2 separate regions of the Homo sapiens genome follow, and region 2 is linked to region 1. The links come from fine-mapping of genetic effects on plasma protein levels. Region 1 holds a variant in brackets. A gene starts in the other region. All regions are shown on their forward strands.

The links. PIP is the chance, under the fine-mapping model, that this variant and not a neighbour inherited with it causes the effect. The UK Biobank Pharma Proteomics Project read protein levels with antibody pairs (Olink). The fine-mapping took linkage between variants from a reference panel, not from the people measured, so its PIPs are less certain.
Region 2: it holds the start of TNFRSF14, and the variant in region 1 is fine-mapped to the plasma level of the TNFRSF14 protein (UK Biobank, PIP 0.96).

The regions. Positions count from the first base shown.
Region 1 is chr3:46,882,422-46,885,420 of GRCh38, forward strand. It overlaps PTH1R (parathyroid hormone 1 receptor), which reads left to right. Exons shown (of 16, transcript NM_000316.3): 3 at 1,091-1,213. The coding sequence starts at 1,139. Among named protein-coding and RNA genes, the nearest start is that of PTH1R, 6.2 kb to the left of the region's middle. The variant T/C (reference allele first, on the strand shown) is at 1,628.
Region 2 is chr1:2,555,875-2,558,374 of GRCh38, forward strand. TNFRSF14 (TNF receptor superfamily member 14) reads left to right here and starts at 497. Exons shown (of 8, transcript NM_003820.4): 1 at 497-859; 2 at 1,852-1,960; 3 at 2,469-2,500. The coding sequence starts at 791. It overlaps TNFRSF14-AS1 (TNFRSF14 antisense RNA 1), which reads right to left and starts at 1,137. Exons shown (of 7, transcript NR_037844.2): 1 at 1,103-1,137; 2 at 1-822.

The sequences.
Region 1 (2,999 bases):
CCGACATCCATGGCAAGGCGGGGGCCGCGGCGGCGCGCTCGGAGTAAGTCGGGGCTGGGGACCCGCGCCGAGGGGAAGTGGCCGGAGTCGGGGAGGAGCGACTCCGGGCCTGGCCGGAGCAGCCAGGCTGCTCTGTCTCGGTGTCAGTCGGCGGCGCCTCCTCGGAACCCGGGGGAGTCGCCAGCCCCGCGCCGCTCGGCTCGGTGGCTTTTTTGGAAACTTGCAAATGTTTTCGTAGAGAGAAAAGGGGGAGGGAGGGAGCGAGGGAGTGACCGAAACGGAGCTTGGGGCCGCTGGAAGAACTGAGGCCAAGGCCGGGGGAGCTAGAGACGGACTGACAGACAGGCAGACCGACAGAGCGTCGGGGCCGCTGCGCGCCCGAGCCGCACAGGCGCAAGCGGGGCTCTGGCCAAGGATGGGGAAGGGGTGCGGGAGGCGGCTGCCGAGGGTCTGGGATCTCAGGAGGCCGAACGGCCGGGGGCTGGCGGCCGGAACACCTAAGGGCTCAGTGTGGCTGCAAAGTTGAGATCGCACCCCCTAACTGCACGCCCCGCGCGGCTCAGAACGCGCCCCCTGCCCGGCCCTGACTCCCTACGCCGAAAGTCGCGGAGCTAAAAATAACAGTCCTGCGCGCCCCCCGCAGACCGCGACCCCGACCCCTCCCCCGCCCCCTCCCCCCACTGGGCGTGGGGCGAAGCCACAGCTCCCATTTCCCCAAAAGAAAAAAAAAGAAAGAAAGAAAGAAAGAAAGAAAGAAAAGGCGGCGCGGGAGGGGGGCGGGGGGCGGGCCGGGGGCGGGGGGCCCGGCCATATGGATGTGATTTCTTCGCTCCGAGGCAGACGGGCCGCTCCGCAGCGCTCGGCGCCCGCCCGCCGCCCGCCCGGCCTCCGGCTCTCCCTCCCTCCCTCCTGTCCCTCCCTCCCTCCCTCCTTTGCGCTGCTCGCTCGCTCGCTCGCTCGCTCGCCCTCAGCGCATGGGCCCCGCGCCGGGCCCCGGGGCCTCGGGCCGCCGGGACGCCGGGGTCCCATAGGCCGGGGCGTGGGCGGGGCGGCCAGCCTGACGCAGCTCTGCACCCCCTACCACCACCAGGGCCGGCGGCGGCGGCTGCCCCGAGGGACGCGGCCCTAGGCGGTGGCGATGGGGACCGCCCGGATCGCACCCGGCCTGGCGCTCCTGCTCTGCTGCCCCGTGCTCAGCTCCGCGTACGCGCTGGTGAGTCCCCCGCCGCCAACACTCCGGGACAGGCTGCGGGCTTACCCTAGGGTCCGCGGGATAGGTCTAAGGCACGCAGTCTTGAGTTCCCCCAGTAGTTCGAACTTTGGGTGAGAGTCCCCTCTGATCCAGGATCCTGGGTGCCTGCTGTCTCTGGGATGTCTGGACTGTGGGTTCCAGCTGCCTGAAGCCTCCCTATTTCTGAAGCCTCGTTTGGGGTCCCAAATCTGGCAATTTGTGGTTGAGTTTTCACCATCCTCTGCTTCTGTGAGCACCATGGCTGTTTCTCCCTGGAAGATGACAGTGTGACCCAACAGAAGGCTGGGCTTTGGCCCTGCTGCGTACTCCCACAGACTTTGCTTTGGGGACCTCTGTTTTCTGCAAGTTTTGTTGCAGTCCCGGACACAGGGAATG[T/C]AGGTCTGAGGTCAGAATCATCCAGGCAGGGGGTAGGATTTAGGGGCCCCCTCCAGCCCTCACACACACACATGCACACGTCTGGCTTCACCCAGGGTAGAAGCTGTTTCCCCAAGGAGGTGGGTGTGGTGTGGCATGGAGAAGGGATGGAGTTCCCTGAAGGAGACTGACCTCACAGTGCACCCCTGTAGGAGAAGCACAGCATATCCTGTGGGGAAGTGAGGAGACCCCTGGAAAGACTGTCACTCCCTGAGAGTGACCTAAAAGCAGAATGGTAGGGAAGGCTAGAGGGAGAGGAGAGACAGAGACAAAGCCGGGTGGGGAGGAGAGATCCCCCCAGCTGGAGGGGTGGACAGACTAAGAACAGCAAAAAAAATAGGGAGACAGGCAAAGGCAGAAAGCTGGAGACACAGAGTGGGCAGCACCTCCTCCTCCTGGGCCAGGGTCTGGGGCCCACTTGCTGGGAAGGGGGCTGTCCCAGCCCCTCAGTCCTATTCCACAGCAACCCCATCCCCTGGGACGAGCCCGTTCCTGGGGAGGCTGTCTGCCTGTGCGCCTAACTTCAAAGCCTCTTCTCCCTGCTCCCCAGTGGGGGTATCTGCCTGCTAGAGAGCAGGGCAGTCAGGCAGCCTCCTCCTCCTGACCAGCAGCAGCTCCCTACACGGGGCAGAGCTCCAGGCAGTTCCAATGAGCCTGGGATTCCTCCACCTTTGCATGATGCCTGTGTAAGCCTGGGCTGTCCTTCTCCGTGCCTCAGTTGCCCCATCTGTAAAAGAGAGGGCCTGGAAGAAACATCTGCCTGAGAATCCCATCATCAGAGGCTCTCCCTTCCTCTGAGGTCCTCAGCACTTCCCACTTACCTGTGCCTACACCCTCACAATTCTGGCCCCAGCAAAGGCTCCCCACCAAAGACAGCCCCATACAAGGCCTTGTGGATGGGGAAACTGAGGTTCAGAGGAGCTCAACACCCTCTGCAGAGACACTCCAAGTACTGACGAATGCCAGGGGATAGAACTACCACCAACCCCACCCCCGGAGTTTGGTGTGTGACGGCCTGAGGGGTAGACAGGGTGATGGGTGTGGGTGTCCTGAGAGTAAGTCTATGTGTCAGAGCAGGGTTCTGTGGGACTCTGGGCATGGTGTTCATCTGGGTCTGTGTGATTGTGAGTGTCTGAGTCCCTGTGTGAGTTCACGTGTCTGAAGTTGTGGTGCATGACTTGGAGGCGCAGTTGTGTGTGTTTGTGTGTGCCTTTGTGAGCGCCTGTGCACCCGGGCCTGTTGTTTTCTTATGTGTATTTCATAAATGCTTCTGTAGGGCTTTCTACTTGCCATTGTTCTAAGCAATTCACGTACATTAGCTAGTCTAATCCTC
Region 2 (2,500 bases), not on the chromosome of region 1:
GGGCAGGGAAGCCCAGTGGGGTGCAGGGAGCCAGGAAGCTGGGGTGGGGTCAGGGCAGGGTCCACAGGGAGACCGGGCGAGGCTGGCAGCCTTCCCAGTCCGCGCAGCGTCTCTGCAGGGGGAGCAAGAGCTGCCCTTCCACCCCTCCCAGGGGACGGGTAGGGGCACTCTGGGCTTTTCCCACCCCCTCACGCAGGGACACAGGCCTGGTGGGTCTATGACTGAAATTGGCCAGACCGCATTCTGGTGGTTTTATTCGGAAGGGAAGTTTACCCTGTTCAGCAGAAGCTGAGATGGGAACAGGAAACCCACAGGGCCCCTTTATTCGGCAAAAATGTCAGTCAGCGCCCCGGGGAGCAGCCGAGGGTCCCTGAGTGTGTGAGTGAGGTGGGGAAACACAGATGGACTTTGGGGGGCTCCCCCTTCTACAGGAAACCCGGAGTGGACTGGAATGGTGCAGGGGGAGAACTCGCCCCTCCCATCGGGCGCCTCCTTCATACCGGCCCTTCCCCTCGGCTTTGCCTGGACAGCTCCTGCCTCCCGCAGGGCCCACCTGTGTCCCCCAGCGCCGCTCCACCCAGCAGGCCTGAGCCCCTCTCTGCTGCCAGACACCCCCTGCTGCCCACTCTCCTGCTGCTCGGGTTCTGAGGCACAGCTTGTCACACCGAGGCGGATTCTCTTTCTCTTTCTCTTTCTCTTCTGGCCCACAGCCGCAGCAATGGCGCTGAGTTCCTCTGCTGGAGTTCATCCTGCTAGCTGGGTTCCCGAGCTGCCGGTCTGAGCCTGAGGCATGGAGCCTCCTGGAGACTGGGGGCCTCCTCCCTGGAGATCCACCCCCAAAACCGACGTCTTGAGGCTGGTGAGCCCCCGAGCCTCCTCTCCGTCTGCTCGCAGATCCCAGTTCTGACCCCAGGGCCTCCCACAGATCTCTTCCCCATGCCCCTGTCCTGGCCGTTGCTGGCTCCGGCGTCCAGCCCGTCCCCTGCTGCCTGGGGCTCTCGGGTCAACCCAGACCCCCAGCACTGGGCTCACCACAGTGGGGTGAGCAGCAGAGCCACAGCCCTACCCAGCAGACCTCCTCCTGCGTGTGTCCCCCACTCACCACTCCGTCCACGGGCAGCTGGTGAGCCCCCATTTGGCCGGATGTGGGCACTTCTGGGGGCTGGGTGTCTCTGGGCGTCTCTGGGCGGGGCCCTCGAGCAGGTGACCCAACTCCCCGGCAGCCCTGACCTTGGTGACAGGTGATAAGATCAGTGTGCAGCAGGGGGCTGGACCCAGGTGGGTGGGGTGGGGATACTCTCCATGCTCATGTGGCACTCCTGCCTGTCCAGCCACTATCCCCATCAGGGGCCCCCGACTGCCCATCAGCCAGCCCAGGAACGAGGCCACGGCAGAGCCACCCTCCCCGATGTGGCCCTGATCAGCCTGTCACCCACTGTCTGGCTTGTGAGCCTCTGGGGCCCATCCCTGGCTGCCCCTGCTGGCTCTTCAGGGGTCAGCAGGTCCAACCTAGGCCAGCAGGGGGGCCGGCAGGTTGTCTGCCCAGTGGGCTCAATGCTCCCAGGTGTGGGGTGTGGGGTCCCTGGCGAGGGCAGAGTTCCAGTTCCCAGGGCTCCGCGCTGCCAGGCAGCGTCATCAGGGCTGGAGGAGGGGCGGTCCCCACCCTATCCCGGGCTCCAGCGGTCGGCAAGGTTGTTCCATGAGCCTGGCCTGGGGCCCGCTTCTGTCCTCTCTACCAGGCACTGCCGCTCCTCCCCATTGCACAGAGGGAGATTCAGGCTGTGGGGCCAAGCCTGGCAGAGCCCACAGGGCAGCCAGGGCATCTCCCAATGCCTGTCCTGACCCCCTTAGGTGCTGTATCTCACCTTCCTGGGAGCCCCCTGCTACGCCCCAGCTCTGCCGTCCTGCAAGGAGGACGAGTACCCAGTGGGCTCCGAGTGCTGCCCCAAGTGCAGTCCAGGTAGGTGCAGCCCTTTGGCGGGCCAGCTCTGTGGGCCGAGGGCAGACACTCTTGCCCCCTTCTGCCCCAGACACCCCTGTGTTCTCTGCCCCCACAGCCATGGGTGTGATGAAGCCCTGGGGCTAGGTGTGCAGACAGTGAGGGCAGAACCCCCAGGCCAGCAGCTTGGACTCTTCACCCTGGGGGACCCTCACAGTCACACTGCACAGGGGGTGGGTCTGAGAGACGTGGCTGGCCCACCGTGGCCAGAGACATGGGCTCGGGGGCACATACCAGAGCCGGGCCAGGTGTCCCAGGAGGCCCCATGTGCTTCCAGAACTTTCCGATTTTCCCCAGAGCAGCTCTGCTCATGGCTGATGGGGCTGCTGTGTCCCGTGGGGCTCATGGGCCATTTGAGTCCCCTTAGCTGGTGTCTCCCTGCTTGGGCTCTGGGCGCGGGTGGAGTGATGGGTGGGCTCCCGAAGGGGCCTCCCGCAGACTTGCGAAGTTCCCACTCTCTGGGCGGCAGGTTATCGTGTGAAGGAGGCCTGCGGGGAGCTG